2 separate regions of the Homo sapiens genome follow, and region 2 is linked to region 1. The links come from fine-mapping of genetic effects on gene expression. A gene starts in region 1. The other region holds a variant in brackets. All regions are shown on one strand. Distances are between the middles of the regions.

Region 1 (16,032 bases):
TTATCCTTTCCTACACTAGGAAAGATGGGTAAATAGTTCTCTGAAAACTTTTGATTGCGATCTGCCAAGGAAAATTTCCCCCAAGGAGAGACAACACAGTGATGAATAAATGTGTTAATAGAGAACGGAAAAGCCATCGCAGGTGGCGGGGTGTGTTGTTTGTGTGTGTGTGTTTGCGTGTGTTTGTGTGTGTGCGTGTTTGTGTTTGTGTGTGCCTGCATGTGTGTGTGCATGCATGTGTTTGTGCGTGTTTGTGTGTATGTGTTTGTGTACGTGTTTGCGTGTGCATGGGTATTTGTGTGTGCGTGTGTGTGCGTCCTTGTGCGTGTTTGGGTGTTGTGTGTGTGCGTTTGTCTGTGCGTGCGTTTGTGTGCGTGTCTGTGTATGCGTTTGTGCGTGCATGTGTGTTTGTGTGCGTGCGTGTCTGTGTTGTGGGCGTGTTTGTGTGTGCCTGCATGTGTTTGCGTGTTTGTGCACGTTTGCGTGTGTATGCATGTTTGTGTGTGTGCGTGTGTTTGTGCATGTGTGTTTGTGTGTGTTTTGTGTGTTGTGTTTTTGTGTGTTTGTGTGTTTGCGTGCGCGCATGTATGTATGTGTGGTGGGGAGTTAGGAGCTTTGGCAGCAAATGGAGCAAGGAACTTGCTTGGTCCCTTGGAGAAAAGAGAGGTGGCCAATGGGGTTGGTCAAGGTTGGGGTGGGGCAGCATGCTTATATAGTAGGGACGTACACAAGCAGTTTTGGGTTTTCTCTCTGAGCAATAAAAATCTTTTGAAGGTTTTAAAAGGAAGTAGGTGGGGGTGAGCTACGTACGATTTGAATTTTTAACTTTTTTTCAGTCATCAGACTAACATAAAGTGGCATGTAAGACTGTGGAGTGAATGTTTAGAAGAGATATTTCCAATATGCTTTAAAATGAGAGCAAATGGGAAGCTTGAGGCATTACCCACTTCGCTTCTCTCTACTATTTCTAGAGTTGAATTACAATTTAAACAACAACAACAACAACAACAAACAGGTCACTTCTTGAGTCTTAATGCACCAAATGAGTCTATGGGTGTTTTGTAGGAGAGTAGAATTTTTTTCTGTTCAAGTTAGTGCAGAAAGATCTACCATCTCTTTCCTGTATCATGAAAAAAGTTTCCATTTAAGGATGTGGTAACAAAACCACAAGGCACACTTGAACATATGCCATGGAAATACACGCTGTTTACACGGAATCTGTGAGCCACCAGCTCCTTTCTCTAAACTACTGAAGCAGGCATATACGTCCTTCTCCCCAGCCATCTTGAATGGATAGGTGGAATTCCTGGAGAAGTGAATAATTCCATCCCACATGTCACCTACCACAACACCTTTTCTTGTTTTGTTCTGTGAACCCACAATATGTGAGACAGGTCTCAGTCAATTTAGAAAGTTTATTTTGCCAGGGTTGAAGACGCACCCTTGACACGCCTCAGCAGGTCTTGATGACCTGTGTCCAAAGTGGTTGGGGCACAGCTTGGTGTTATACATTTTAGGGAGACATGAGACATCAATAACTGTATATAAGGTGTACATTGGTTCGGTCTGCAAAGGCGGGACAACTCAAAGTGGGGAGGGGGTGTCCAGGTCATAGGTAGATAAGAGACAAATGGTTGCCTTATTTTGAGTTTCTTTTTCTTCCTTTCTTTTTTTTGAGACCAAGTCTCACTCTGTCACCCAAGCTGCAGGCTGGAGTACAGTGGTGCGATCTCGGCTCACTGCAACCTTCAACTTCTGGGCTCGAGCAATTCTCCTGCCTCAGCCTCCCGAATAGCTGAGATTACAGGTGCCCACCACCACACGTGGCTAATTTTTTTGTTCTTTTTTTTGAGGCTGGAGTGCTGTGGCACCATCTGTCTTCTGGATTCAAGTGATTCTCCTGCTTCAGCTTCCCAAGTAGCTGGGATTACAGGCATGTGCCACCACACCTGGCTAATTTTCGTATTTTTAGTTAGAGACGGGTTTAACCATGTTGGCCAAGCTGGTCTTGAACTCCTAAGCTCAAGTGATCCACTTGCCTCGGCCTCCCAAAGTGCTAGGATTATAGGCATGAGCCACCATGTCTGGCCTCTTCTGAGTTTCTGATTAGCCTTTCACTGAATACACAATTTACAGGTATAGTCACTTATGCTTTAGTCTGGGTTAGTGAAAAAACAGGGCAAAGGAAGCAATCAGATAAGCATTTGTCTCACAGTGAGCAAAGGATGACTTTGAGTTCTCTCTGTCCTTTGTCCACAAGGAATATCCTTGTGGGCAAATTGTGAGGTAGGTATGTAGCTTTATTTTTTTCATTTATTTTTATTATTATTTTTATCTTTGTAGCTATCTTATGTAGGATAAGATAGCTACAAAGATAAATTTCCCTTTTTTTTTTTTTTTGAGGCAGGGTTTTATCCTGTTGCCCAGGCTGCAGTGCAGTGGAGCAATCACAGTCATGGTAGCTTCCTGTCATGGCAGCCTCCACCTCCAGGGCTCAAGCTATCCTCCTGCCTCAGCCTCCCGAGTAGCTGGGACCACAGATATGCACCACCATGGCCCGCTAATTTTTTACTTTTTGTAGAGGCGGGGTTTTGCCATGTTGTCCAGGCTAGTTTTGAACTCTGGGACTCAAGAGATCCTCCCACTTTGGCCTCCCAAAGGGCTGGGATCACAGGTGTAAGCCACTACCCCCAGCCTGATTTGCTCTTTTCAGTACAAATGTGTTGGCATTACAGATGTCCTTGACAACATTCATGGGCAACTGGGATTACTCATCAGGTTACAGGAATCTACATTCTTTTCTTCCATGGTCACAGAATCCTGAGAGATTGTGCTCCTTATCTTTCCCATGAGATTCAGTGTTTCCAGCACAAAAACACTCATCACTCTAAGGACCATTTTTGGTTTACTGGTCTAGGGACCAGTTGTGTCCGGAATTGGTGGGTTCTTGGTTTCACTGACTTCAAGAATGAAGCTGTGGACCCTCACGGTGAGTGTTACAGTTCTTAAAGACGGTGGGTCCGGAATTTGTTCCTTCTGATGTTCGGACATGTCCGGAGTTTCTTCCTTCTGGTGGGTTCGTGGTCTCGCTGACTTCAGGAGTGAAGCCACAGACCTTCGCAGTGAGTGTTACAGCTCTTAAAGGTGGCGCGTCCAAAGCTATTCGTTCCTCCCGTCTGGAATTGTTTGTTCTTCCCAGTGGGTTCGTGGTCTCGCTGGCTTCAGGAATGAAGCCGCAGACCTTCGCTATGAGTGTTACAGCTCATAAAGGCAGCACAAATCCAAACAGTGAGCAGCAGCAGCATTTATTGCAAAAAGCAAAATAAGAAAGCTTCCACACCCAGGAAGGGGACCCCAGCGGATTGCCGCTGCTGCTCTGGTGGCCTTTCTTTATTCCCTTATCTGGCCCCACCCACATCCTGCTGATTGGTCCATTTTACAGAGAGCTGATTGGTCCGTTTTGACAGAGTGCTGATTGGTGCATTTACAAACCTTTAGCTACACAGAGTGCTGATTGGTGCGTTTACAATCCTTTAGCTAGACACAAAAGTTCTCCAAGTCCCCACCCGATTAGCTAGACACAGAGGCTGATTGTTGTGTTTACAAACCTTTAGCTAGACACAGAGTGCTGATTGGTGCATTTACAGCCCTTTAACTAGACAGAAAGCTCTCCAAGTCCCCACCGGTCCCAGAAGCCTAGCCGGCTTCACCTCTCACTGGCGCTCTTCGCGGGATTTTGCGGCACTTACCCCGGGTGCTCCAGTAGCCCAGAAGGAGCTTGTCCCAGACAACCAAGAGGAAAAGAGGGGAAGCGAGAAAGAGAGGGAGACCCGCCATTCTGGCCAACGACCCTGCGAAGAGGGAATGGCGGTGCACGCACGGGACCCAGCCTCTGATCAAGCCCAGCAGGCGCCGGCCAGCTGCGCTGAGTGCTGGGCCCGTGGAGCCCGCGCCCACCCGGAACCTGCGCCGGCCCGCGAGCGGTGAGCGCCGGGCGCAGCCCCGGGTTCCGCCCGCGCCTCTCCCTCCACACTTCTCCGGGAGAGGAGGGAGCCGGCTCCGGCCTCGGCCAGCCCCAGAGAGGGACCCCCACAGCGCAGCGGCAGGCTGAAGGGCTCCTCCAGCGCGGCCAGAGCGGACGTCCTGGCTGAGGAGGCGCCGAGAGTGAGCGAGGGCTGCTAGCACGTTGTCACCTCTCACAGTCACTTGAGACCTTAAAAACAGTGTGTCTAAATGTTGTATTTCAAGGACCACCTAAAGCAGAATACTTTGGGATGCCTTCCAAATTCTTGACTGCTACTCCCGACCTTCTGAATTTAGAACTCTTGTGGGTAAAGCCCGGAATCTGAAAAGTTAACAAGAATCTCAAACAATTCCTGTGCAAACTAAAGCAAAGCTTGAAAGTCATTGTCGGAAAAAAGGTAGAATGTCAGTTTTCTCCACCAGTTTTCCAAGGGAACCCTAAATGCTAGTTAATGTCATATCCTTTAAATGTTCTCTATTGTTATGTAATAGCTAATTAGTGTTACCTTTCAGTTTCAATACTTCTTATATGGATGGTTTTCCATTCTCCAAAGTTAAATGGTGGAGATGAGAATGTGGATGAGAGGAAGGGAATTCTTACTTTTTCAGCAGGTGCTATTTGCCTGGTGCTTTAGCATTCATCTCATTTAATCCTCTTCACAATTTTGTAAACTGAGAATTACTAACTCTTACAGGTTGATTCAGAGAAAGCTCAGAGGAAAAAAAATCTTTTTTTGGGTCAGGGTCTCACTCTTGTCACCCAGGCTGGAGTGCAGTGGTGTGATTTCGGCTCATTGTAACCTCTGCCTCCCAGGCTCAAGCTATCCTCCTGCCTCAGCCTCCCGAGTAGCTGGGACCACGGGCATGCACCACTATGCCTGGCTAATTTTTTTTTTTTTTTTTTTTTGTAGAGACAAGGTCTTCTTACGTTGCCCAGGCTGGTCTCGAACTCCTGGGCTCAAGTGATACACCCACCTCGGGCCTCCAAAAGTGCTGGGATTACAGGTGTTAGCCACCGCACCCAGCCCCTCCTGTATACTTTAAATAATCTCTAAATTATTTATAATACCTAATAACAATGTAAATACTATGTAAATAGTTGTTATACTGTATTGTTTACAGACACCAAAAAGTCAGTCACCAGAAAGACCATGTGATTAGAGTGTTAGAGGGTTGGAAATTTCAGCCCACCCACCAACCAACAGGAGAGATCGGGGGCGGGTGGCTGGAGATTAAGCTCTATACAAACTCTTAGACAACAAGATTTCATGAGCTTCTAGGTTGCTGAATACAGGGAGGTGCTGGGAGGGTGGAGTGCCCAGCGAGGGCATGGAAGCCCCATGGCCTTCTTATCTTTGCCCTATCCATCTCTTCATCTGGCTGTTCATCTGTATCCTTTATAAATCCTTTACAATAAACTGGTAAACATAAAATATTTTCCTGGACTGACGTCTGAATTGGGGCAGTCTTGTGGGAGACTGGGCCCTTAACTTGAATTGAGTTATAGGACATCGTGTTGATGTCCTTTAGAGTTGGTTGGTGTGTAGGGAAATACTCCCCCAGCCCCTCTTCTGGTCACAGAACTGCTCTGTGTTTTGTGCCAGTAGAAAGGAGAAAACAGTTTGTTTTTTCCTTTTACAGCCTCATCATTTAGCTCTCAGCTCAAATGGTAATTTCTCAGAGAATCTTTTCTGGGCCATCCTACTTGTTATGGCACTACCTGTCATATTGCTCTGTTTTCTTCTTCAAGGTACTTATTATTATTTGAGATAGAGTCTTGCTCTGTTGCCCAGGCTGGAGTGCAGTGATGCAGTCATGGCTTGCTGCAGCCTCAACCTCCAGGGCTCAAGTGATCCTCCCACCTCAGCCTCTTGAGTGGCTGGGACTACAGGCACATGCCACCACATCTGGCTATTTTTTTTTTTTTTTTGAGACGGAGTCTCACTCTTTCGCCCAGGCTGGAGTGCAGTGGTGCGATCTTGGCTCACTGCAAGCTCCGCCTCTCGGGTTCACACCATTCTCCTGCCTCAGCCTCCTGAGTAGCTGGGACTTAGGCACCCGCCACCATGCCCAGCTAATTTTTTGTATTTTTAGTAGAGACGGGGTTTCACTGTGTTAGCCAAGATGGTCTCGATCTCCTGACTTCATGATCTGCCTACCTCGGCCTCCCAAAGTGCTGGGATTACAGGCGTGAGCCACTGTGCCTGGCCACATCTGGCTAATTTTTTAAAAACAATTTTTTGTGGAGATGGGGTCTTACTATGTTGCCCAGATTGGCCTCAAACTCCTGGTCTCAAGTGATCCTGAGCCTCGGCTTCCCAGAGTGCTGAGATTACAGGTGTGAGCCACCGTGCCTGGCCCAAAGCACTTATTTATTTGAAATGACATGATTTGTTGGCTACCTCTCCCACTAGAATGTTTATTATAACAACCTTTCATCTTTTGTTCATGACTGTCCAGAACTGTACATGGTACATGGTGGGAATCTAAAATAACAAACATTCTCTTGTTAAGGTAATTAGTGATTTCTACATTGCAAAATTCAGAGACCAAATTTTGCTTCAAGCTTTCAGCAACAGTGGACACTGTTGACCATTCTTTCTTTCTCTCAATTACCATATCCTATTGTCCTAGTTCTTCCTCCTTCTTCACCAGAGGTTACTTCTCAGATTCTTTCTAGAATCTTCTGCTTGAGGTTCAAATGTTAGTGTTTCCATAGCCTGGGCCTCCTTTTTTGTGGTATCTCAATTCTCTCATGTTACTGTGTCTCTTCCCACATGTCTTAGTTCATTTTGTGTTGCTATAACAGAATACCTGAGACTGGGAAATTTATAAAGTATAGAGATTTATTTCTTATGGTTCTGGAGGCTGGGAAATCCTAGGTCCAGGGGCCTGCATCTGGTGGGGAGCTTCCTGCTGTGTCATTTCACGGTGGTAGGCAAAAGAGAAAGGGAGCTGAACTCATCCCTTTTATCGGGAACCCACTCCCCAATAACTAACCCACTCCTGTGATAATAGCATTAAGAGCTCTGCCCTCATAACCTAATCACCCCTTAAGAGTCCCCCCTCTCAACACTATTGCTTTGGGGAATAAGTTTCCAACACATGAGCTTTGGGGGACACATTCAAACAATAGCATCATGACATTAAATGCTATCTTTATATTTACAACATAACTACCAAATTTACCTTAGTTTTGAACTTCAGACTTTTACAGTTTATCTATTTATTTGACACGTCTACCTGGATGCCTAATAGTCACCTCAAACTTAACATGTTGAGCATAGATTCTCTATTATCTCTTATTTCAGTCCTTGGTCCCAGCATTGGTTGGTTCCATGCCGAGGCCCCACTGCTCTGCCATCTCTTATTCCACTCTTCCCCTAACTTACTTTGCTTCAGTTATGGCCTTGTTTGCCTCTTGTCCCCCAAATTTTGTTTTATTCACTGCTGTATCCCCAATACTGATAACAGTGCCTGGCAGGTACTGTTAGGTACTAATAGGTGCTCAATATAATAATCTGGTAAACATAAAGTGTTTTTTTGAGTTCTGTGAGCCATTCTAGCAAATTATGGAACTCAAGATGGGGGGTTATGAAAACCCCAATTTATTTGTTGAGAGGGAGTCTCTCTCCATGGTCCAGGTGCAGTGGGGCAGTCTTGACTCACTGCAACTTTCGCCTCCCAGGTTCAAGCGATTCTCTTGCCTCAGCCTCCCAAATAGCTGGGATTACAGGTGTGCACCACCACGCCCAGCTATTTTTCCTATTTTTAGTAGAGGTGGGGTTTTGCCATGCTGGCCAGGCTGGTCTTAAAGTCCTGACCTCAGGCGATTCACCTGCCTTGGCCTTCCAAAATGCTGGGATTACAGGCATGAGCCACCACGCCCGGCCTGGAAACCCTAATTTATAGCTGGTTGGTCAGAAGCATAGGTCACAACCTGAGACTTGTGATTGATGTCTGAAGTTGGGGCCATCTTGTGGGACTGAACTCTTTATAGGATCTGACCAAATAACTCTTCCTCGAAACACAAAGTTAGGGCTTTTGCATCCACTGTTCCCCAGATGGGAAGATGAGTCCCCTGATCTTTGTACGGCTAGTTCTTTCTCATCATTCAGGTCCCAAGCTTCAAAAACCACTTCCTCAGCAAGGCCCTCCCTGAAGTTGTGTCCCCAGGCTCCATTATATCACCCTGTTTTTCATCAATGTTATTACCTATCATTACCTATTATTTTTGTTGTTTAATTGGTATGTCGTTTGTCCTATTCTATTTCAATGAGTACAGGGATCTTGTCTGTACCATCCATGCCTAAAACAGTGCCTGGTGCGTATTAGGTATTCAACATATATTCATTGAATGAATGAATGAATGAATGAATGAATGAATGAATGAAAGAAACCCAAGCCTGCTAGACCTCAAAAGCCCAGAGAACTGTTTTCTCTGGCTGGTTCTTCATTCAGACGATATTTTCTCCTCTTGACATTTTATAGTCTTCCGGCCTCCATGCGCAAGGAACCATGTAAAGGTTCTGAGCCTTGAAACCAGACAATGTATTTCCCTGTTACTTTTCGCTTGAATCTTCTCTGTATTTAGCAACCAGTCATAGAACACTAACCATGTACCAAGCGCTATGCTAAGTGCTGAACACATAGAGCTGAATAAAGCACAGAACTACCCTTGGTACAATTATTGAGGTTTTAATAATACATAATTTGACTACATTTCTTAGATTTCGCGTCGTGACGTTTTCAGCCTCTCAAACTGCATCGCCTACGCACAGAAGCTTCCCGAATCTCAGACGAGACACAACAAAGCTGCGCGCTGCCCTCGCCCCGCCCGCGGGCGCGGCGGCGACAGGCCCTCGGCCCCGCCCACACCGCGGCGCCACGCCTCCAACCCGCCTCCAGCCGTGCCTCCCCAGGCCCTTGGCCCCGCCCACACCGCCTCGCCCCGCCCCAAGCCGCGCTGTGCTCCAGGGGCGGGGGCCCACGGCGGCCACTCACTGAGCCCCACGGGCCGCAGCGGCAGTGACGTAGGGTTGGCGCACGGATCCGTTGCGGCTGCAGCTCTGCAGTCGGGCCGTTCCTTCGCCGCCGCCAGGGGTAGCGGTGTAGCTGCGCAGCGTCGCGCGCGCTACCGCACCCAGGTTCGGCCCGTAGGCGTCTGGCAGCCCGGCGCCATCTTCATCGAGCGCCATGGCCGCAGCCTGCGGGCCGGGAGCGGCCGGGTACTGCTTGCTCCTCGGCTTGCATTTGTTTCTGCTGACCGCGGGCCCTGCCCTGGGCTGGAACGACCCTGGTGAGTGCTGCCAGGGCCCTCAGGCGCTTCGTTCGCCCTTTTCCGCCGCCGTCAGCCGGTGCAGGCTCCCCTGCGTTTCCGTGCGCCGTCTTCCCGGAGCCTGGGTGCCCGGATTCCCCATGTCTGACCTCTTTGCTGTTCGTGCTCTCCCTGGTTCCACTGCTCTTCCCAGGCGTCTTGGGAGGCGGGTAGGGACTGCTCGAGTGGGCGGGGCGGGACGGCTGGAGATCCTTAAGGTCCCCTTTCTCCCTGCCCCGGACTCCCGGAATTTGCCCATTGTCGTCTTTCTCATCTCTGAGTATAACTGGAGAGCTGGACACTCACCTGCGCATCTGCTTTGTTGTTATGGCTGTGTGATGTCATCGTGGCCTGCTGTTGTCATGGCTGCCTGTTGCTATCGCCGGCCGTTGCCTGCCACTGGCAGTCTCTGAGTCACCCTTAGCGGACAGGGCTGCAGACCTCGCAGGTCTGTTAGCAGAATCGCAGATTGCACTCTTTTTTTTTTTTTTGAGTCGGAGTCTCACATTGTCGCCCCGGCCGCACTGCAATGACGTGATCTCGGCTCACTGCAACCTCCGCCTCCTGGGTTCAAGAGATTCTCCTGCCTCGGCCTCACCGGTAGCTGAGATTACGGGTGCCCACCACCATGCCTGGCTATTTTTTTGTATTTTTAGTAGAGACGGGGTTTTACTATGTTGGCCAGGCTGGTCTCGACCTCCTGACCTCGTGATCCACCCGCCTTCATCCTCCCAAAGTGCTGGGATTACAGGCGTGAGCCACCGCGTCTTTATGAGAACCGCTGCCTCTTATCTGACGATTGCAGTGATGTACATCGCGCGGCACCAGCTCTTCCCATTGGCTTTCACCGTAGAGAAGAATTTAAAAAATAATTTTCTCGGTTTTTTTTAGTGATGGTACATGATAAGTGGGTTTTAGGAAAGAGGTTCTTTTATGTCAGTACAGTATTAAAATTGTCTAAAGAATTTTCATGGGATCAGTAATATTCCGTGCAATTAATACGTATATGTCTATATACTTAGATACAGATTTTGACTTTTTCCATGTAATAAATGACGCATGCTGTTACTTTGGAATTCTGTAAAAAAAAAAAAAAATGAAAACAACATCATTTTTGCTTTGCGAAGTAAAGATGGCATGGAAAGCATATTGCCTTTGTGATTTGGTGATTGGAAATGCCTGCATTGTCGAATTTAAGCAACAGGTTTATTTCTATAATAGCCTATTCTTACATGCTGAAATGAGAGAGAAGGTGCTATTTGCAAGCACATCACGTTGAGTAGTCATTTGATGTGGACATTTTATTACCAAAAATAAAAAGCCAAGTTGTATTTAAATGTCTGTACGTTTTTCTTTTGTATTTCTAGAAAGCTGTGTATGAGTGGGAGACTTGATCAGAATTACAAGTGAAAACCTAGAATGAAACTTTAATTTGTTGAACTTTGAATCAGTTCGTAAATAAATTTAATAAAGGAAGTTTACAGTTGAAGAGCCAGAAGAACTATAAAAACTATGAAAGAAGAACCAAATTTAAATTAAAGATGAACCACTTCCTGGTTTATCTACGCTGTAAAACTATTGTTCTGGAACACAAAGCACCACAATATTTTGCAGAGTAAACTCAATTGTTTTATGTAAATTCTACTTCAAAGTTTACTTTGAGGAACTTTTTTGTTTTGTTTTGTTTTTTTGAGACAGTTTCACTCTTGTCGCCCAGGCTAGAGTGCAATGGCGCGATCTTGGCTCACCGCAACCTCTGCCTCCTGGGTTCAAGCGATTTTCCTGCCTCAGCCTCCCGAGTAGCTGGGATTACAGGCATGTGCCACCATGCCCGGCAAATTTTGTATTTTTAGTAGAGACAGGGTTTCTCCATGTTGGTCAGGCTGGTCTTGAACTCCCAACCTCAGGTGATCCGCCCGCCTTGGCCTCCCAAAGTGCTGGGATTACAGGCGTGAGCCACCGCACCCGGCACTTTGAGGAACTTTTTAAATGAAGATACTTTATTGACATACTATTTATTAAGTCCTTTACTAAAGCATTAATCGGCTCCCTAATTTATCTTTTGTTTGACTTGGATGCCATTACTTTAGCTCACATTGAGCAGTAATTTGTCTGGAAAAAAAAATTAGCACCATTCTAAAGAGATTACCAATGAATTTTCAAAATTCCTTATTGAATGTAATCTTATATTAAGTTACTCTTCCGGGTGTTGGGAATATAGCAGTGAACAAAACAGTGTCTTGCCTCCAAGGACTTTACCTCTATTGGGGAGAAATAGACAATAAACAGATAAACATGTAAATAACATGCTATATTGTGAAAATTGGTATGCACCGTGTATGATAAACAGCGTAAGGAGGACATGGTGTGCGGGCAGAAGTGGAGACTTAAAAAACGTACATTGGTCAGGGAAGTCACTGTTAGGGTGACATTTGACTGGAAACCTGAAGTGGGGAGGAGGAGTAAATGACCTGAAATTACTTATATCTTTAAAGGCTCATTTGGGCTGCTCTGTGGAAAACAGACCGAAGAGGGTAGGAGGGAAGCAGGGAAACCAGTGAATTAATATATATTGCTATCTATTTTAATATTGTACAGTAAGTTCTTAGAGTGGTGACCGCTTGGCCCAGGGCAGGAGCAGTAGAGAGCTGGTTAGAGTAGCTGGATTCTCTTGTCACCTGTTTGGAAGGTGGAGCTAACATGATCTTCTGAAGGATCAGATGTAGGAGTGAGAGGAGAGAAGATGAGAAGTCCAAGGTTTTTGGCTTGAGCAACTAGAAGCATGGAGTTAACCATTTCCTGAGATGTGGAAGAATGTGGGATGATCAGGTTTAGGGGAGTTTGGTTTTGTTTATCTTGTTTGAGACCTGCCGTGATTTTGATTTATGAGTCTGGAGTTCAGGGAGCTCCTGTGTCCCTTGACTGATCTAACTAGTGGGGCGTGGGTATTAGAATTTTGTTCTTGGACCTTAAGAATCTCTAGGGAAGAAAGATGCTATAGGATTATGGTAATGCTATTCCATCTTAAAACTTTCAGTAATATTTATCATACCTGATCACCTGTTATGCTTCAAGTACTCAGCCAGATAATAAATTATATCTAAGCTTCACAACAAATTTCAAGGTTGATAATATTTTAATTTTGTAGGTGAGGAAACTTCTACACAGGTAAATTAAATGCCTTGGCCAAAGTCACAGCCAGTTAGTGACACCAACTTAGTTCAGTGTTCTTTGCATTATTGCAACTCTGTTACAATAAATTCAATTTATTATTTCTGTTATTTAGTTGATTAATACAGTCTGATTTTTCTAAACCATTGAACATTTTCATTGTCTTATTTTTTATGTATGAGGAGGTAGTAGTTTGTGTTTAATGTAGCATGGTTTATTTGAATATAGTTCTTGGAAATTTTAGATCTGTAGCCCATGTGGAATTAAATTTTTATATAGCTTTAGGTGGATTTTCTTGTGGCTGCATAGTCAATTATGCCAGTGCTATTTATTAAAGAAGACATCTTTTATCCACTAAATTAAAAAGACCACTTCATCTTACTGAATTCCCAAATGTATCTTGATTTATTTCTGATCTTTCTTTTGTTTCACAATTTCCTTGTCTCTGTTCCAATTCCCTACTATTTTGATTATAATCTTTTTTTTTTTTTTTTTTTTTGAGATGGAGTTTCACTCTTGTCGCCCAGGCTGGAGTGCAGTGGTAGCAATATCAGCTCACTGCAACCTCCACCTCCTGGATTCAAGTGATTCTCCTGCCTCAGCCTCCCAAGTAGCTGGGACTACGGGCGTATGCCACCACGTCCAGCTAATTTTTGTATTATTAGTAGAGATGGGGTTTCACCATGTTGTCCAGGCTGATCTCGAACTCCTGACCTTAGGTGATCTGCCCTCCTTGGCCTCCCAAAGTGCTGGGGTTACAGACGTGAGCCACCGTGCCTGGCTGATGATAATAATTTTATAGTAACCTTTACTATCTGGTAACCTATGTGTTCTTTTTCAAAAAAAAATTGTCCACAGGACCTTTAACATAATTTCTTTCCCCAAAAAACCCTATTGGGTTCCTGGTTGGAAGTATATTTAGGTCTCTCTCTCTATATATATTTTTTATATAGATAGGGTATTGACCTTAAGTTTATTAGATTGATTAGATTCATATTAAATACTTGTGGGAAATACATCATAGGAGATGTTGTAACATCAGTTTGTTCCACCATTAGCAAAGCGATGGTTGGCAAACCCAGCCAGACTTTTTCCTTTAGAGTTTTTGAATATATTTCTCCATTTTCTTTTTCTATCCTGTTGAGATACCTGAAGCTTTTCTAAGTCTTATCTTTTCTATATGGCTTGTTTTCTCCCTATTCTTCTGGCAATTTGTAGAATCTTTTTTTGTCTTCAGTGTTCTAAAATTTACTTTTCGTGTGCCTTTGTGTGGTCTGTTTCTCAGGCCTGGGTATTTGTTGGGCCCTTTCAGTATGACAACTCAAGTCCTTCAGTGTGGGAACTTTTCTTGAATTACAGCCTGGAGTTTGTCTAATCAGATTCCCTTGTTCATTCTTTCAGAAGCCCTTGTTGGATTTTTGGACTTTCTGAACTGGTCCTGAACTGGTAATTTTCTTTCTTTCTTTTTTTTTTTTTTCCTCCTACTGTCTTTTTTCTTTCTTTCTTTTTTTTTTTTTTGAGACGGAGTCTAGCTCTGTCCCCCAGGCTGGAGTGCAGTGGCACCATCTCGGCTCGCTGCAACCTCTGCTTCCCGGGTTCAAGCGATTCTCCTGTCTCATCTTCCTGAGTAGCTGGGATTACAGGTGCCCGCCACCATGCCTGGCTAATTTTTGTATTTTTAGTAGAGACGGGGTTTCACCATATTTGCCAGACTGGTCTCGAACTCCTGACCTTGTGATCTGCCTGCCTCGGCCACCCAAAGTGCTGGGATTACACACGTGAGCCACTGTGCCCAGCCTTTCTCTCCTACTTTCTATCTTTTTGCTCTACTTTCTTTTTTCTTTTTCCTTTTTTTTTCAGATGGAGCCTTGCTCTATCGCCAGGCTGGAGTGCAGTGGCACAATCTTGGCTCACTGCAACCTCTGCTTCCTGGGTTTAAGCAATTCTCCTGCCTCAGCCCCCCGAGTAGCTGGGACTACAGGCACGCGCCACCATCCCCAGCTAATTTTTGTATTTTTAGTAGAGCCGGGGTTTCACCGTGTTCGCCAGGATGGTCTTGATCTCTTGACCTCGTGATCCACCTGCCTCGGCCTCCCAAAGTGCTAGGATTACAGGCATGAGCCACCACGCCCGGCCTCTTTTTGCTCTACTTTCTAGAAGATTTTCTTTTAACAGTTCTGTCGTATGTATGTATTTATTTATTTATGTTTTGTGACAGGGTCTCACTCTATCACCCAGGCTGGAGTGCATGGCTCACTGCAGCCTCGACCTCCCCAGGCTCAGGTGATTCTCCCACCTCAGCCTTCTAAGTAGCTGGGACTGCAGGTGTGTGCCACCATACCTGGCTAATGTTATAATTTTTTTTGTAGAGACAGGGTTTTGCCATGTTGCTTAGGCTGGTCTTAAACTCTTGGGCTCAAGTGATCTGCTTGCCTTGGCCTCCCAAAGTGCTGGGATTACAGGCATGAGCCACTGCACCTGGCAGTTCTGTTGTTTTTAATCTTGGCTGTCCTGTTTTTAATTTCCAAAAGCTCTTGTTTTTTCTCTGAGTATCCCTTTTAAAAATGATTGTTTTATTAACGCAGTCTTTTTCTCTTATCTCTCTGAGGATATTACAGTGTTTTTAAAAAAGTTTTCTTCTTGTGCGTCATCTCTTTTTTCCTCCTGCTTCCTTTTGTTGTTGTTTTGTCCTGGTTGCTGTATTTCATGTTAGGGGCTGTTTTGTCTGTTTAATGTTACTGTAACACAATACCACAGACTGGGAAATTTATTAAAAAACTGAATTCATTTCTCACAGTTCTGGAGGCTGAGAAGTTCAATATTAAGGTGCTAGCATCTGGTGAGGGCCTTCTTGCTGTGTCATCCCATGGTGGAAGGCAGAAGGGAGAGAGTGAGAGAGGGGAAAGGGGCCTAACTCATCCTTTTATCAGGAGTCCACTCCTGCGATAACTAACCCAGTCCTGCAAGAACAGCATTAATCTATTCATGAGGGCAGAGCCCTCTTAAAGATTCCATCTTTCAACACTGTTGCATTGGGGATTAAGTTTCCAACATGTGAACTTTGGGGGACACATTCAAACCATAGCAGGGACTTTCCTCATATTTTTAGTAATCCTTGGCTCCCTGCTCATGGTTAATTCTGGGGAACCAAAAAGCTCATTGGAAGCTATCAGTGTGCAGTTGCACTTTTGATTTTGAACTTCACAACAGGGTGACCTAGGTTGCTCTTTTTTGGAGGAAGTTCCTGATGTCAGTGTATTTAGGTACTTCTTCTTGGTTAGATTACCAAGGGAATAGTCATCCAGTCTCCCACAGAGGACAAGGGGATGGCTGTTAGCATTTTGTGCACCATGTGGGGAAGGAGAACTGTGCTTTCAGCAGTCAGAGTGCACACAGTCACTTGGGTTCCCTGTTTGGTTGTTTTTGTCCCCATGCCCTTTACTATGCCAGATGGTCCCCAATGCAAATCCCTTCAGTTTTATCCTCTCCAGAGAATACATCTCCAGACAGTTTCCTTAGTG
Region 2 (16,032 bases), 46 kb after region 1:
CATCAGTTACGATGGAAATTTTGAAAGGGTGGAACAAGGGTGGGTCTTCTGGACTGCAAGTGCTCTCTTCTGTGTGTCAGGCATCTGCAGAGACCAAAACAGGAGATTCAGCCTCAGTGCTCAATTATATATTTTCTTGTGAATAATTATTAATTTTAAAATTTATTACAAAATACATCAAATATGAGAAGAGCACGGAGAATAGTATATCAAATATCCTGCTATCTTATAGCTATTTCAGATCCCTATTTTTTTTTTTGAGACAGAGTTTTTTTTTTTTTTGAGACGGAGTCTCGCTCTGTCGCCCAGGCCGGACTGCGGACTGCAGTGGCGCAATCTCGGCTCACTGCAAGCTCCGCTTCCCGGGTTCACGCCATTCTCCTGCCTCAGCCTCCCGAGTAGCTGGGATTGCAGGCAAGCCACCACTCCAGCTAATTTTTGTATTTTTAGTAGAGACGGAGTTTCACCATGTTGTCCAGGCTGGTCTCGAACTCCTGACCTCAAGTGATTGACCCGCCTTGGCCTCCCAAAGTGCTGGGATCTTGATATCCTTCACATGGACACTTAGTATACCACAGGAAGGCATCTTTAATAACTTCCTTTCTGTGTTCTGCTCTTCCTCCTGTGCTTGTCTTAAAACAGAGCCTTACAGGGTCATAATTTGGAGGAAGCACAGGTATGAGCCATTGTGCGCAGCCATATCAGATCCCTATTCTTGTTTTATTTATTTTTTGAGACGGAGTCTTGCTCTTGTCACCCAGACTGGAGTGCAGTGGTGTGCTCTTGGCTCACTGCAACCTCTGCCTCCCGGGTTCAAGTGATTCTCCTGCCTGAGACTCCCAAGTAGCTGGGATTACAGGCATGTGCCACCATTCCCAGCTAAGTTTTGCATTTTTAGTAGAGACGGGTTTCATAATGTTGGCCAGGCTGGTCTCGAACTCCTGACCTCAAGAGACCTGCTCGCCTTGGCCTCCGAAAGTGCTGGGATTACAGATGTGAGCCGCTGTGCCCAGCCATATCAGATCCCTATTTTTGAAGAATCTAAGTCACTAGGTATAGTTACAGGCACTGTGTATCACTCCCCAAACTCATTAGTCTCTTTCTTTTCCCAGAGGTAACCACTATTCTAATTTTGGAGTTCATCATTCCCATGAATATTAAAAAATTTTAATTACAGACAAATGCACGATTATGTGAAGAATAGTTTGAATATATTACAACTTTACATAAGTTTATAAAGTTATGTTCATTCCTCTGGGTCATTCCTTTCAACCGCTTCATAATATTTCTCTATGGCTTTAACCCAATTATTGTATTTATTCTCTTACTGTTGGATAGTATTTAAAAAAAAATAGATCTATGTTGAGATTATTTCAAAAACAGTGCATATTAACTGCCAAGCACTGTTCTAAACACTTGACAAGTACCGATTGATTTAATTCTCATAATAGGACTATGAGGAACTCCATATTATTTCTCCATTTTACAGATGGGAAACTGAGGCACAGAAGGAAGTTAAGTCACAGAGAGAGGTTATTTGCTCAAGGTCACAACGTTAGTAACTTGTGGGCCTACTTCCTAGAATTGAAATTTATGGATCACAGGCTATAGGCACCTTCCACCTTACTAGATATTGCACTCTACCAAGCAGTTGTGTAGATAGGAACTCTTGGAGAACAGAGCCAGAAGAAGCCCAGAACTGTGAGGAATAGTGGATTAGGAAACCATTCCCAGGATGTAAAACTAGGCCCTAAACTAGGAACATTCTCTGCCTCCAGAATAGGGTGTCTGGCATGGCCTGAATTATGTCTCCCCTCAAATTCATATGTTAAAGCTCTGTCCTTCAGTGTGACTATGCTTGGAGACAGTGCCTATGAGGAGGTAATAAGATTAGATGAGGTCATAAGAATGGGGCCCCAATCCAATAGGGCTGGTGTCCTTATAAGAAGAGGAAGAGACACCAGAGCTTTACAGCTGTCTGCAAACCAGAAGGAGCACCCTCACCAGGAATCAAGTTGGCTGGCACTGTGATCTTGGACTTCCCAGCCTCTAGAACTCTGAGAAATAAATTTCCATTGTTGTGATTGCTTTGGCAGCACATATACTAAAAATTGGAATGATACAGAGAAGATTAGCGTGGTGGCTGTGCAAGGATGGCATGCAAATTTTTGAAGATATATATGTATATATACACATATATGTGTATATACACATATATGTGTATATACACATATATGTGTATATATACATATATGTGTATATACACACGTGTATATACACACACGTGTATATACATATATGTGTATATGTGCATATATGTGTATATACATGTATGTACATATGTGTATATACATATATGTGTATATGTGTGTATACATACATACGTGTGTACATATGTGTATATGTATATATGTGTATCTGTGTACATATACATATATGTGTATCCGTGTACATATACATATATGTGTATCCGTGTACATATACATATATGTGTATCCGTGTACATATACATATATATGTATATGTGTACATATACATATATGTGTATATGTGTATATATACATATATGTATATATGTATATATACATATATGTATATATGTGCATGTGTACACATACATATATGTGTATATGTGTATATGTGTATATACATATATGTGTATATATACATATATGTGTATATGTGTATATATACATCCATGTATATACATATATATACACACACATCCATATATATATATATATATATATATATATATATATATATATATATGGAGTCTAGCTCTGTTTCCCAGGCTGGAGTGCAGTGGCACAATCTTGGCTCGCTACAACCTCCATCTCCTGGGTTCAAGTGATCCTCCTGCCTCAGCCTCCTAAGTAGCTGGGACCACAGACATGTGCCACCACACCTGGCTAATAGTGTTTTTGTATTTTTGGTAGAGACGGGGTTTCACCATATTGCCCAAGCTGGTCTTGAACTCTTGAGCTCAAGTGACCTGATTGCCTTGGCCTCCCAAGGTGCTGGGATTACAAGCGTGAGCCACTGCGCCTGGCCAACATTCCATATTTTAAAATGGACTCTGGGGACTCGAGAGAAAGGGTGGGAGGGAGCCGAGGGATAAAAGACTACACATTGGGTGCAGTGTACACTGCCTGAGTGATGGGTGCACCAAAATCTCAGAAATCACCACTAAAGAAGTTTTCCATGCAACCAAACACCACCTGTTTCCCAAAAACTATTGAAAAATAAAAAAGAAGCTAGATGACAGACATAATGGGTTAACTATACTATTCTCTGTATTTTTGTGTAAATTCAAACTTTTTTAGAATAAAAATTAAAGGCTGCTTAAAAATATTATATTGCTTAAGCCATCCCTTCTGTGTATTTTGTTATAGCAGCCCAAGTGGGTTAATCCAGGGTCTTAATCAAATTTGTCTGGCTATGGGTTGGTGGTTACTATATGCCTTCCATTACTCCTTTTTGTTTTTGGAGGGGGGTGTCTATTGTGACTGTCCTATCTCTGCCTCACCATTGTATGCTGGGTGCGTATGTGAGCAGATAACTTGTCTTTTTAGTACATGGGTCTCTGGATCCAGAGAAGTTGGACTTGAGAAGCGTCATCTACATTTGAACCTTGCAGATCATGTTGTCATGGACGTTGTCCCTGATGACATGATTGAGTGAGACTTCGGAGTCCTGACTGGGGATAAATGCCCCTTGCATGCGGGAGGGGTATCAATCATTGAGGTGGAGGGAAGACTGTGATAGAGATTGTTTTATGTATGTGTGCATGTATATATATTATATATATGTATTTATTATTATTTTTTTTTGCCAAGTGTGGCTCTATCGCCCAGGCTGGGCGCCCAGGCTCTGTCGTCCAGGCCCAGTGGCACGATCTCAGTTCACTGCAACCTCTGCCTCCAAGGTTCAAGCCATCCTCCCACCTCAGCCTCCTGAGTAGCTGGGACTACAGGTGCGTGCCACCACACCTGGCTAATTTTTGTATCTTTTGTAGAGATGGGGTTTTGCCATGTTGTCTAGGCTGATCTCGAACTCCTGTGCTCAAGCCATCTAACTGCCTGGGCCTCCCAAAGTGTTGGAATTACAGGAGTGAGCCACTGTGCCTGGCTGAGAGTGTTATATATTAAAGGCCTCCAGTGAATTTCTCTTTTTAGTATCCAAACCCTTGCAGTCTTCCTGTCTTGATGCTGGAGTTGGCTATATGACATTTTTTTTTTTTTTTTGAGATGGAGTTTCATTCTGTCGCACAGGCTGGAGTGCTATGGTGTGATCTCGGCTCACTGCAAACTCCACCTCCTGGGTTCAAGTGATTCTCCTGCCTCAGCCTCCCAAGTAGCTGGGATTACAGGCGCTCGCCACCAGGTCTGGCTAATTTTTGTATTTTTAGCAGAGACGGGGTTTCACCATGTTGGCCAGGCTGGTCTCGAACTACTGACCTCAAGTCATCTGCTTGCCTCGGCCTCCCAAAGTGTTGGGATTACAGGCGTGAGCCACCGTGCCCAGCCATGTGACTTTCTCTGGCTTGCAGGGCATAAGCAAATAAGAGGCTAGCAGAGACTTGATAAGCACTTTGCACTGGGGATTCCCTTGTGGACATTTATGTTGCCATGTGAAAAAGGCCAGTTTAGGCGCCTTAAGGATATAAAATCAAATAGACAGAGGTCTAGCCATCCCAGTGGAGCCCAGTCCCTGCCAACAAATGTAGCCACATCAGGACATGCAGGTAAGGTCAACAGAATAACTGCCCAGCCATCCTACAGATTCAGGAGAAATAATAAATTGTTATGTCTTTAAGCCACTAAGTTTCAGCCTAGCTTGTAACATAGCAATATATAACATATATGAAGTTTAGCTCCCCTATTGTCATTTTTATTTTTTTCAATTATGATCAATGACATCTATGCATTTTTTCCTAAGCAGAACTTTAGCGGCATCTTATACGTTTTGATGCATACTATTTTCTAATTTCCATTATACTTTTTTTTTGACTTAAGATTTACTCAGACAGGGCGTGGTGGCTCCCACCTGTAATCTCAGCACTTTGAGAGGCCGAGGCGGGTGGATCACCTGAGGTCAGGAGTTCAAGACCAGACTGGCCTACATGGTGAAATCCCATCTCTACTAAAAATACAAAATTTAGCCTGGTGTGGTGGCGTGCACCTGTAGTCCCAGCTACTCGGGAGGCTGAGGCACAAGAATTGCTTGAACCTGGGTGGCAGAGGTTGCAGTGAGCCGAGATCGCACCACTGCGTTCCAGTATGGGCAACAGAGTGAGAACTCTGTCTCAATTAAAAAGTAAATAAAAAAATAAGAGTTATTTAGAAGCGTATTTTAACATTTCTTTATATAATTTTTTTGTTACTTTTTTGTTATTGGTTTCCAGTTTATTTGAATCTTGTTAGGATTGGCTTGTTAAAACTTTTTGAGATTTACTTTGAGACCAAATACATGTTCAAATACTCTAAAGTATTCTGTTTATGTTTTAATAGCACATGTATTTGCTGATTTTTGTCTGTGGTATATATATATACACACACACACTTTATATATTTTATATATGTTAATAAATTGGGGAGGGGGGATAGCATTAGGAGATATACCTAATGTAAATGACGAGTTAATGGGTGCAGCACACCAACATGGCACATGTATACATATGTAACAAACCTGCACGTTGTGCATATGTATCCTAGAACTTAAAGTATAATAAAAAAAAATAAAAAAAAGAAAAAAAGAAAATCAGAGAAAAAAATAAATTAGCTTGATATGGTATATATATGTGTTTGTGTATATAGACTATCTATATCCATATATCTATTATATTTATGTATTACAATCATTATTCTATAACTATTATAGTATATTATATAATCTGATATATAATATATTTTATATATATATATATATATATATGTGTGTGTGTGTGTGTGTGTGTGTGTTTTCTTTTTCCGTCGCCCAGGGTGGAGTGCAGTGGCGCAATCTCGGCTCACTGCGAACTCTGCCTCCCCGGTTGAAGCAATTCTCCTGCCTCAGCCTCCCAAGTAGAGTAGCTGGGATTACAGGCGCCTGCCACCATGCCTGGCCAATTTTTGTATTTTTAGTAGAGACGGGGTTTCACCACATTGGCCAGGCTGGTCTCGAACTCCTGACCTCAAGTGATCTGCCCACCTTGGCCTCCCAAAGTGCTGGGATTACAGGCATCAGCCACCGTGCCCGACCTCTGTTTACTTTTTTTTTTTTTTTGTCCATTTGCTTTATTTACTATTGAGGTACTTTTGTTAAAATTTCCCAGTTTCACAATGGGTTTAAAAACTTTCCTTTTAATTTTACTCATGTTTACTTCATATTCTGATACTGTTATTAGTTGAGTACATGTTCAGAATTGTTATATGTTTTTGGTGGTGTATCATTCATCTACTTTTTCATAATAATTCTTTTGGACTTAAAGTCTTATTTAAAATATTAACATAGCTCTATCAGTAGTTTCGATGATATTTACTTGTAATATATTTTTACATCTTTAGTTGTAACTTTTCTGTATTCCACTGTGTCTCTAGTAAGCAGCTTATGCCTGCATTTTAATTTTTTAATTAAAAAACTTTTTTTTGAAATGGAGTCTCACTTTGTCACCTTGGCTGGAGTGCAGT[G/A]GCGTGATTTCAGCTCACTGCAACCTACGTCTCCTGGACTCAAGCGATTTTTGTGCCTTAGCCTTCCAAGTAGTTGGGATTACAGGTTTGCGCCACCACACCTGGCTAATTTTTGTATTTTTAATAGAGACGATGTTTCACCATGTTGGCCAGGATTGTCTCGAACTCCTGACCTCAGGTGATCTGCCTGCCTCGGCCTCCCAAAGTGCTGGGATTACAGGCATGAACCACCATACCCAGCCATACATGAATTCTGAAAGGCTGATTCTCTATTAATAATGAATTTTATCCATTTGCATTTATTGCAATTATTTACATGTTTAGATTTCTTCCTGTCCTCTTTTGTGCTTTCTATTTACTATGCTTTTTCTTTGCTCCTTTTTTGTCTTGCTTTAAGTGTGTTTTTTTAAATTCACATTTTTCTTTTTAACTAACGACATCATGCATTCAATTTCTATTTCTTACATTTAACTTGCGTCTTGATTTAAGACAGGCTGAAATTGATCAGCATCACCAGCCTCCTCTAGAACTAGAAAATAATCTTCTTGAAACAGTCCCAATAATAGGTTATTCATAGCTAATATTCTAGTTTCACAATGTTTTGTTTCCTCCACAAATTTGTTACTTTTTATTGTTTTATATGAGCAATGCTTACTTAGATTTACCCACATTTGACACATTTGCATCTTATTCCTTTCCTCTGGGCTCCCTCCCTCCCTCCCTCTCCCTCTGTTCCCTCCCATTTTAGAGACAGGATCTCTCTCTGTGGCCCAAATTGGAGTGCAGTGGCGTGATCATGGCTCACTATAGCCCGGAATTCCTGGGCTGAAGCGGTCCTCTCATCTCAGCTTCCTGAGTAGCTGGGACTACAGGTGCATGCTGCCATGCCAGGGTAATTTTTAAATATTTCTGTAGAGACAGGGTCTTGCTGTGTTGCCCAGGCTAGTCTGGAACTCCTGGCCTCAAGCAATCCTCTTGCCCTAGCTTCCCAAGGTGCTGGGATTATAGGCATGAGCCACTGCACTCAGCCCTCTTTTCCTTCTTCCTAAATTATGTCTTTTAGGATTCCTCTCAGCCAAAGTTTGACAGAGGTCAACTCTCTTATTCTTTGTTTGCTTTAAAATGTCTTTAGTTTGCCTTCATTCTTTAGTGATAGTTTATCTCCTTTATCTGCAGAGAATCCTAGATGATAATTATAATTTTACACTTTGAAGATATTGTGTTTTTGGTTTCTGTTGTTGTTAAGTCTGCTGTTTGTCATTCCTTTGTAGGTAATCTACTTTTTTTTTGGTGTTTAAAATTTTCTTGTTGTCTTGGTGTTTTGCTGTTTATTATAATGTGACAAGGTATAGATTTATTTCTGTATTTCCCACTTGGTACTTTTTGTATTATACTTCCTGAATCTGAGGATTCATGTCTTTCATTAATTCTAGAAAATTCTCAGCCATTTGTTCTTTGAATATTACCTCTCTCACATCTCTTTGTTTCTGCTGGAATTCCCATTAGATATATATTTATTTTCTCATTCTCTCTTCTGTGTCTCTTAAACTCTCTTGAACCCTTTCCGTGTTTTATTTCTTTTGCATTCTGGGCAATTTCCTGAGCCCTATCATAGTCTACTCTTCTCTTTTCAGTTGTGTCTAAGCTGATGCCAAATTTGACTAATGGGTTTTCTGTTTCAGTGATTCCATTTTTCATTTCAGAAGTTTTTTTTTCCTTTCTATACTGTCTTCTATGTTTACTTTTCTCCTTTATGTCTTTAATTGTTTTATCATCTTCATTTGATTATTCAGGAACCTGAAGCTCTGAGAGTCTAATGAACTTTATTACATGCTTGTTACTTCTGCTGGCTCTTGCTCACGATGGATTATTAAGTACTGAGTTGTGTGATTGTATGTTATGAGTTCATCTTCAGCAGGGCTCTATTTGTAAGAATGGTGGTGAGTGTGTCCCTCCTGTGTGGTTTTCTTCTGCCAGGTGCTCCAGTGATGTAGCCATCCTAGGATCTATTTATGTGTTAATTTTTTGGCTTGGGGGTTCCTGGGTCCTCACATGGCATTGACCCATAATTGACTTTCCGATGAGGAAACTAATTTTTTTTCTTTTTTTTTCTTTTTCTATTCAGAGTCTAGGTAGGCCAGAAGAGACAAACTTCTACGTCATTTCGTTATGCTGGTAGAGAGATATTTTTCTAGTCCACTCTTCCTGTGCTGTATGTGGAGTCAGGGGAGGGAGGATGGGTGGGTCTTACTTCAGCTTCCTACTTGGCAGTCTCAAGATCTTTCACTTTATCATTGTGTACATGTTAAAACCAAATTCCTAACGTTTCGTAAGTTGGAGATAAACCCGACCAATCCAGGTTAGTTGCCACATCAGCTCACTCACATAATGCTCTGGTTTTCAGAAACCAAATCTTCATTGCTGAGCTCTGGGGATTTCTCCTACTTTCTTGTAAGCTTAACTATGCATTCAAATGTTTTTACTTTTTTTTTTTTTTTTCCACAGAGTCTCACTCTGTCACCCAGGCTGGAGTGCAGTGGTGCAATCTCGGCTCACCGCAACCTCTGCCTCCCAGGTTCAAGCAATTCTCTTGCCTCAGCCTCCTGATTAGCTGGGATTACAGGCATGTACCACCATGCCTGGCTAATTTTTGTAGTTTTAGTAGAGATGGGGTGGCATGAGCCACCGCAGCTGGTTGCTATGCATTCAAATGGATGTTACATCTGGCATTCCTCTGTGTTAATGGTGGGAGAGTTTTCAAGACATTGAGTCTGTCCTGTTCATAAAATTAGAAATCTTCAGTATTCTAATCTATCAAAGGTCGTTGTCCATACCATACGATCATAGCCTAATTTCCATACATGGCACACACTTCCACAGGAGCATGCTGCATGTGCACATGTGTGCACCCACACAATACCTGTTTTGCCTACAGTAGACTCACCCTTAGTGCCCATGTGCAACTTTATCCCTTATGGGATCTCAGTGGAAGAAGTAAAAGTTTCAATGCCTAGAAAAGTATATGGGGTCAGAGGGAGTCCCTTCATTATCAACAAAAACTTTTCGGAAAATACAGCACAGTGGTTAATGGCTGTGTATCAGACAAGCCTGTGTTGAATCTAGCCTTTGCCAGTCTGTGACCTTGAGAAGAGTACTCAACCTTTTTTTTTTTTGGAGACAGGGTCTTGCTCTGTCACTGAGGCTGGAGTGCAGTAGTGCATTCTTGGCTCATTGCAGCCTCAATCTCCCAGGCTCAAGTGATCTCCTATTCAGTCTCCCAAGCAGATGGTACTACATGTGTGCACTAATTTTTAAAAAGTAAAAACAAATAATAAAAAAAAGTTTTTATAGAAACATCTCACTATGTTGCCCAGGCTGGTCTTGAACTCCTGGCCTCAAGCGATCCTCTCACCTTGGCCTCTGGGATTACAGGCATGAGCCACTGTGCCCGGCCTTACTCAACTTCTTTATGCTCAGTTTTCACATCTGTGAAATGAGAGTGTTAAATGTTGTGAGGGTTAAATGAATGCTTCAATAATGTTAGTTATTACATTTATTATTATTATTCTTTATTTGTATGCTTAAAAAAACTCAATCCCTTTCCAAAAGACTCTGAGGGCCAGTATATTAAGTTGAACCACAAAATCGCTTTCATGCGCGTCCGTGTGAAGAGACCACCAAACAGGCTTTGTGTGAGAAATAAAGCTTTTAATCACCTGGGTGCAGGTGGGCTGAGTCCGAAAAGAGAGTCATCGAAGGGAGATAAGGGTGGAGCCGTTTTGTAGGATTTGGGTAGATAAAGGAAAATTACAGTCAAAGGGGGGTTGTTCTCTGGTGGGCAGAAGTGGGGGTCACAAGGTGCTCAGTAGGGGAGCTTTTGAGCCAGGATGAGCCAGGAGAAGGAATTTCACAAGACAATGTCATCAGTTAAGGCAGGAACAGGCCATTTTCACTTCTTGTGTGGTGGAATGTCATCAGTTAAGGCAGGAACTGGCCATCAGGATGTGTACGTGCAGGTCACAGGGGATATGATGGCTTACCTTGGGCTCAGAGGCCTGACAATCGCCATGTTTGTAGATAAAAAATTATTAGATTGGTAGTTTTGTAAGGCTCAATGTAATACTTACTTCAGAACAGGGATCCTATTTTGAAGTTGTTAGAGGAAGACACATTCAAAGGATGAGACTTTGATAATAGAAACACAGATTGGGGCGGGGTGCAGTGGCTCATGCCTGTGAGCACTTTGGGAGGCTGAGGCAGGAGGATCACCTGAGGTCAGGAGTTTGAGACCAGTTTGGCCAACATGGTTGAAACTCCATCTCTACTAAAAATACAAAAATTAGCCGGGCATGGTGGTGGCCACCTGTAATCCCAGCTACTTGGGAGACTGAGGCAGGAGAATCACTTGAACCCAGGAGGTGATGATACAGGAGTTATTAAGAAATAATTTTTAGGCAGATAGTAAGGGTAAAGGTTCTCGGTGGAAATTTTCCTGGAATAAGAAACAATCCCTGAACCATCTCTTTTCTAACAGAAATGGTGGCTTGAAGGGTTGGGCCAGCAAGCTTTAATATGCAAATACAGGCCATTAGAAACTGGGTTCACTCAATATGGCGATTCCTGCCATCTTTTCCTTGTCACCAGGTGTAGCAATTGTCATGGCCACCTCCAGATAACACCATGTGTTCAGAACATCATGGCGACCTGCATTTGTATGTTACGGGGCTAAGGTGGGAGGGCCAGGTTTTTCTTGGGTTATGTAAATGACACACCTGGTGGGCCCTATGGAAATCAGACACCACCTCCTCCGGCCTCTTCCTATAAGCAGCCACTTTTCTGCCGCACACGGAGTTTTCTCTTTGTTTGAATACCCCTCCCTCTGTCTCTATACGGGGGAGCTGTTTTCTTCTTCCTTCTTTCTTGCCTATGAAACTTTTCGATCCCTAAAACCACTCCACGTGTGTGCGTTTTATTTAAACCGGCACGAGACCGAGGACCCTGGTATTCCTCCAGTCATTGGAGTGGTATCAGCAAGGTTGCAGTGAGCCGAGATCACCCCACTGCACTCCAGCCTGGGCGACAGAGTGCGACGCTGCTCAAAAAAAAAAAAAAAAAAAAAAAAAAGTAACAAAGATTGGGACTCAGTCTCTGGGGTTAGGAAGGTCCCCAGGTGTTGAATTTGAATTCCCCATTGGACATTTCTTCGGTTTTATTATAATTTAGTCAGTTTTAGCATTGCCTAATTTAGATAAGTTTTGCCAGAAAGTTGCTGAAAAGTTATATATTTCAGGGTATTGAATAGGCCTATGTATTTGAAACAAAAATATCCCATTTTGGAAGTGATCATTAAGAATAGGAGACTTGGTAGTTAGCAGGAGGCTTTCAGATGGTCAGCTCATTAGCGAGCTCCTAAGGTGGCCTGCTGAGTGATTAGGAGAAAGAATTGAGGGTGGATTTGCATACTTCTGGATCTGATCTTCTTGTTAACACTGGATAGCTGATTAATAACTGTGAAGAAAATAAAGGTCCTGCCGGGTGGCCCGCAGGGAGCGATACATAATTAGAGGAAACCTCCCCTGCCAGACAGAGAGCTGCTGCTGCAGGGTTGATGAATAACCTTCTGAGGCCGGGAGTTGGAATTTAGCCGAATTCCTGTCACTTTCTCCTGTAATTTGACTGTGTGATTCGTTGACAAGAAAAAGTGGCCCTGCGGAGGTGAGCCCTCCCCACACCCGAGGCTCTCCAGTGCTGCTGAAGCCTTTTGAATTCACTCGTCTTCGAACAGATCAGTCATTAGGTAATCTCTCTGATTTCACTTTTGTGATTTAGGTAAATTAGAAAATTAGCAACAATTAAGTCAGCTATGGGAGAGACTTGAGATATATGGCCTGTTATTTCACAAGAGATAGTTAACTACATTCTGTAGCACTTCCTGTGATCTTTATGAGACTTGTTTACTCAGTTTCTCTGGTGGGCAGAATTTTTTTTTTTTTTGAGACAGTCTCGCTCTGTTGCCAGGCTGGAGTGCAATGGCGTGATCTCAGCTTACCGCAACCTCCGCCTCCTGGGTTCATGCCATTCTCCTGCCCCAGCCTCCTGAGTAGCTGGGACTACAGGCGCGTGCCACCACACCTGGCTAATTTTTGTATTTTTAGTAGAGACGGGGTTTCACCGTGTTGGCCAGGATGGTCTCGATCTCCTGACCTCATGATCTGCCTGCCTTGGCCTCCCAAGTTGCTGGGATTACAGGTGTGAGCCACCGCACCCGGCTGCAGAATTTAGTTTCTATTCCTACCCCAAAACCGAATTGGTGGCTGAATGTTGACCTGAAATGACAATGTAGTGTTAGAGCCTCTCCAAGGATGCCAGAACTCTCTGATGACAATGGATTACACCTCCCTCTTAATTTCTTCCTTAAAAACTATGTAAGTAATCCATGGTAGCTTCTTTTATTTATTATATTGTATTTATTTATTTTTAGAGATGGGGGTCTCACTTTGTTGCCCAGGCTGGTCTCAAACTCCTGGACTCAAGTGATCCTCCGACATCGGCCTCCCAAAGTGCTGAGATTACAGGCATGAGCCACCATGCCTGGCCCCATAATCACTTATGTAAAAGTAAAAGAAAACCCCCAGATCACCATATTCACACCTTGGTGCACGGCAAGGCCCTGAGTGAAAAGAGGATTCAATCTAGAGCAGAGATGGAGAAGTATGACTTTCATTATGGGAAAGGCATTTCTATGTAATAGACGGAAAAAGAAGACTGTAGTTGCAGATGGAGAATTGGTGGTTAAAATACGAGGGATGATTTGGTACTTGATGGGTTCTGTATTCTTCATGAAGTGTGAGGAATGATCAATTGAGGCTACATGGAACAGGACGTCAGAGTTTTAGTGGAGTGGAGAGGTATGAAATCCTAATGGAGAATGGGAGAAGGGTTTAGTAGAGGAAATTTAAGAAAATTTCTGGGCATGGTTGAGTGTAAATTTGAGGTTGGTCACTACTAATTTGACCTGTTACCATTCTGCTTAACTGGGTGTTTTTCTCCAGTAATAACCAATGTTTCAAGTTCAAGGCATAGAGGAGGTAAGGTGGATATTGGATCTGTGCAGAGTTCAGGTTCTGCTGTGGAAGGAGAAGGTCAAGGAGCTGAAGGTATTTGTAAGACAGCAAATGCATTTGCTAGACTATGGAATTGTAGCTTGATGAGAAGGAATGTGCTGGGTAAAAAAAAGTAGAAATGTCATTGTTTTTGGGATGTCGATGAGATCAAAGAAATGTGGGAGGAAATGGAGAAAATGATGTCAAAGGAAAGAGGTTACGGTAGGAGACAGAGGTTTTTAAATTAGTGCCTTTTCTTTTTTTTAATATTTGTTTATTTAGTTTTTACATGGACAAGGTCTTACCTTGTTGCCCAGGTTGGTCTCGAACTGCTGGGCTCAAATGATCCTCCTGCCTTGGCCTCCCAAAGTGCTGGGATTACAGGCATGAGCCATTGCACCTGGCGGTACCTTTTCTTTTTGCTTCATTTCTTTTTTCTTTTTCTGAGAAGCTCAGTGGAAGAGGAGGTATCTTCAGCTTGGGTGACTGGAAAGGCTTAATTGAGATGAGATTTAAGTTGGCTTTGGAAATATTTGCATGGGGAAAGAGACTGGAAGTTACGTGGAGCTGTAATTTTGGTGAACACATTATGCAAAGTGGAAACTCATGACACTTGTCTTTCCTAGCAACAAATAACTTGCCCAGCCACTGCTGATGCCATTTTATTATTATCATTATTTTATAGAGACAGGGTCTCACTATGTTGTCCAAGCTGATCTCAAACTCCTGGACTCAAGTGATCCTCCCACCTCGGCCTCCCAAAGTGCTGGGATTCTAGGCATGAGCCACTGTACCCAGCCATAGCTATCTATTTTCTGTGCATCTGTTTATGTATTTGTTGAGAATTTATTATATTCTAGGGCTCATGATATATTCTTTACTTTTGTTAGCTCATTTAATCCTAAGGACTCTATAAGGCAGGCATTATTATCAACCCCATTTTTATATACGAAACTGAGACTCAGAGGCTAAAATTTTTGCCCTCATTCAAATGGTTGGATTTGGATTTGGTTGGAGCTGGGTGTTAAATCTGGTCTATGGACTGTTATTCATAGGTTGAATAACATAATCCGATGGTACACAGACACACCTTAAATTGAGGTAAAATTCACATAACATACATTCCCCATTTTAACCATTTTAAAGTATGCCAATTTAGTGGCTTCTAATACATACACAGATTGTGCTACTGCAACTACTAATTCTAAAACATTTCCTTGCTTCCTTCCTTCCCTCTCTCTCTTTCCTTCCTCTCTCCCCTCCGCTCCCTTCCCCTCCCCTCCCTCCCTCTCTCTCTTATTCTTTCTTTCTTTCTTTCTTTCTTTCTTTCTTTCTTTCTTTTTCTTTCTTTCTTTCTTTCTTTCTTTTTCTTTCCTTTCTTTCTTTCTTTTCTTTCTTTCTTTCTCTTTCTTTTTCTTTTTCTTTCTTTCTCTTTTTCTTTCTTTTCTCTTTCTTTGTTTCTTTTTCTTTCCTTCCTTTTCTTTTTTCTTTCTCTCTCCCCTCCCTCCCCTCCCCTCCCTTCCTCCCTCCTTTCTTTCTCTTTCTTTCCTTCCTGTCTCTTTCTTCCATCTCTGTTTCTTTTTCTTTCTTTTCTCCCTCTCTTCTTTCTTTTTAAAGACAGGATCTCACTGTTACCCAGGCTGGAGTGCAGTGGTGTGAAGTGAAGGCTCACTTCAGCTTCGACCTCCCAGGCTCAAGCCTTAGCCTCCCGACTAGGTGGGACCACAGGAATGCACCACTATGGCTGGCTAATTTTGGGAAACATAGAGAGACCTCATCTCTACCAAAAAAAAAAAAAATGTAGAACATTTTCAATACTCCAAAAAGAAACCCCATATTTATTAAGCAGTCACTTCCTTTGTACCCCTCCTACCAGACCCTGGTGATCACTAATTGGTTTTCTGTCTCTGTGGACTTCCATACTTTGGACATTTCATATAAATAGAATCATGTAATATGATAAGCCTTTTGTGTCTGGCTTCTTTCATTTGTTTTCAAGCTTTGTCTTGTTGTAGCAGGTAACACACTCTGTACATTTTAATGGCTGAATAGTAATCTGTGGTATGGATATACCACATTTTGTTTATCCATTCAACAGTTTATGAATATTTAGGTTGTTTCTACCTTTTGGCTATTGTGAATAATGCTGCTGTGAACATTTGTGTGTAGTTTCTATTCGAACATTCGTGTTCAGTTCTCTTAGATATATACCTGGGAGTGGAATTGCTCGGTTGTGTGGTAGTTCTATGTTTAGCTTT

Evidence for each region. PIP is the estimated chance that this variant, and not a neighbour inherited with it, causes the effect. A credible set is the group of variants that fine-mapping cannot tell apart.
Region 2: its variant is the best candidate, but not a certain one, in a credible set for the expression of SARAF in lung (TOPMed, PIP 0.55).

The regions. Positions count from the first base shown.
Region 1 is chr8:30,076,137-30,092,168 of GRCh38, reverse strand. It overlaps SARAF (store-operated calcium entry associated regulatory factor), which reads left to right and starts at 9,105. Exons shown (of 6, transcript NM_016127.6): 1 at 9,105-9,322. The coding sequence starts at 9,220. RefSeq lists a silencer at 8,782-9,151 and enhancers at 9,192-9,541, 15,664-15,713.
Region 2 is chr8:30,029,957-30,045,988 of GRCh38, reverse strand. It overlaps the pseudogene RNU6-1218P. Among named protein-coding and RNA genes, the nearest start is that of SARAF, 45 kb to the left of the region's middle. RefSeq lists an enhancer at 11,825-12,646. The variant G/A (reference allele first, on the strand shown) is at 6,672.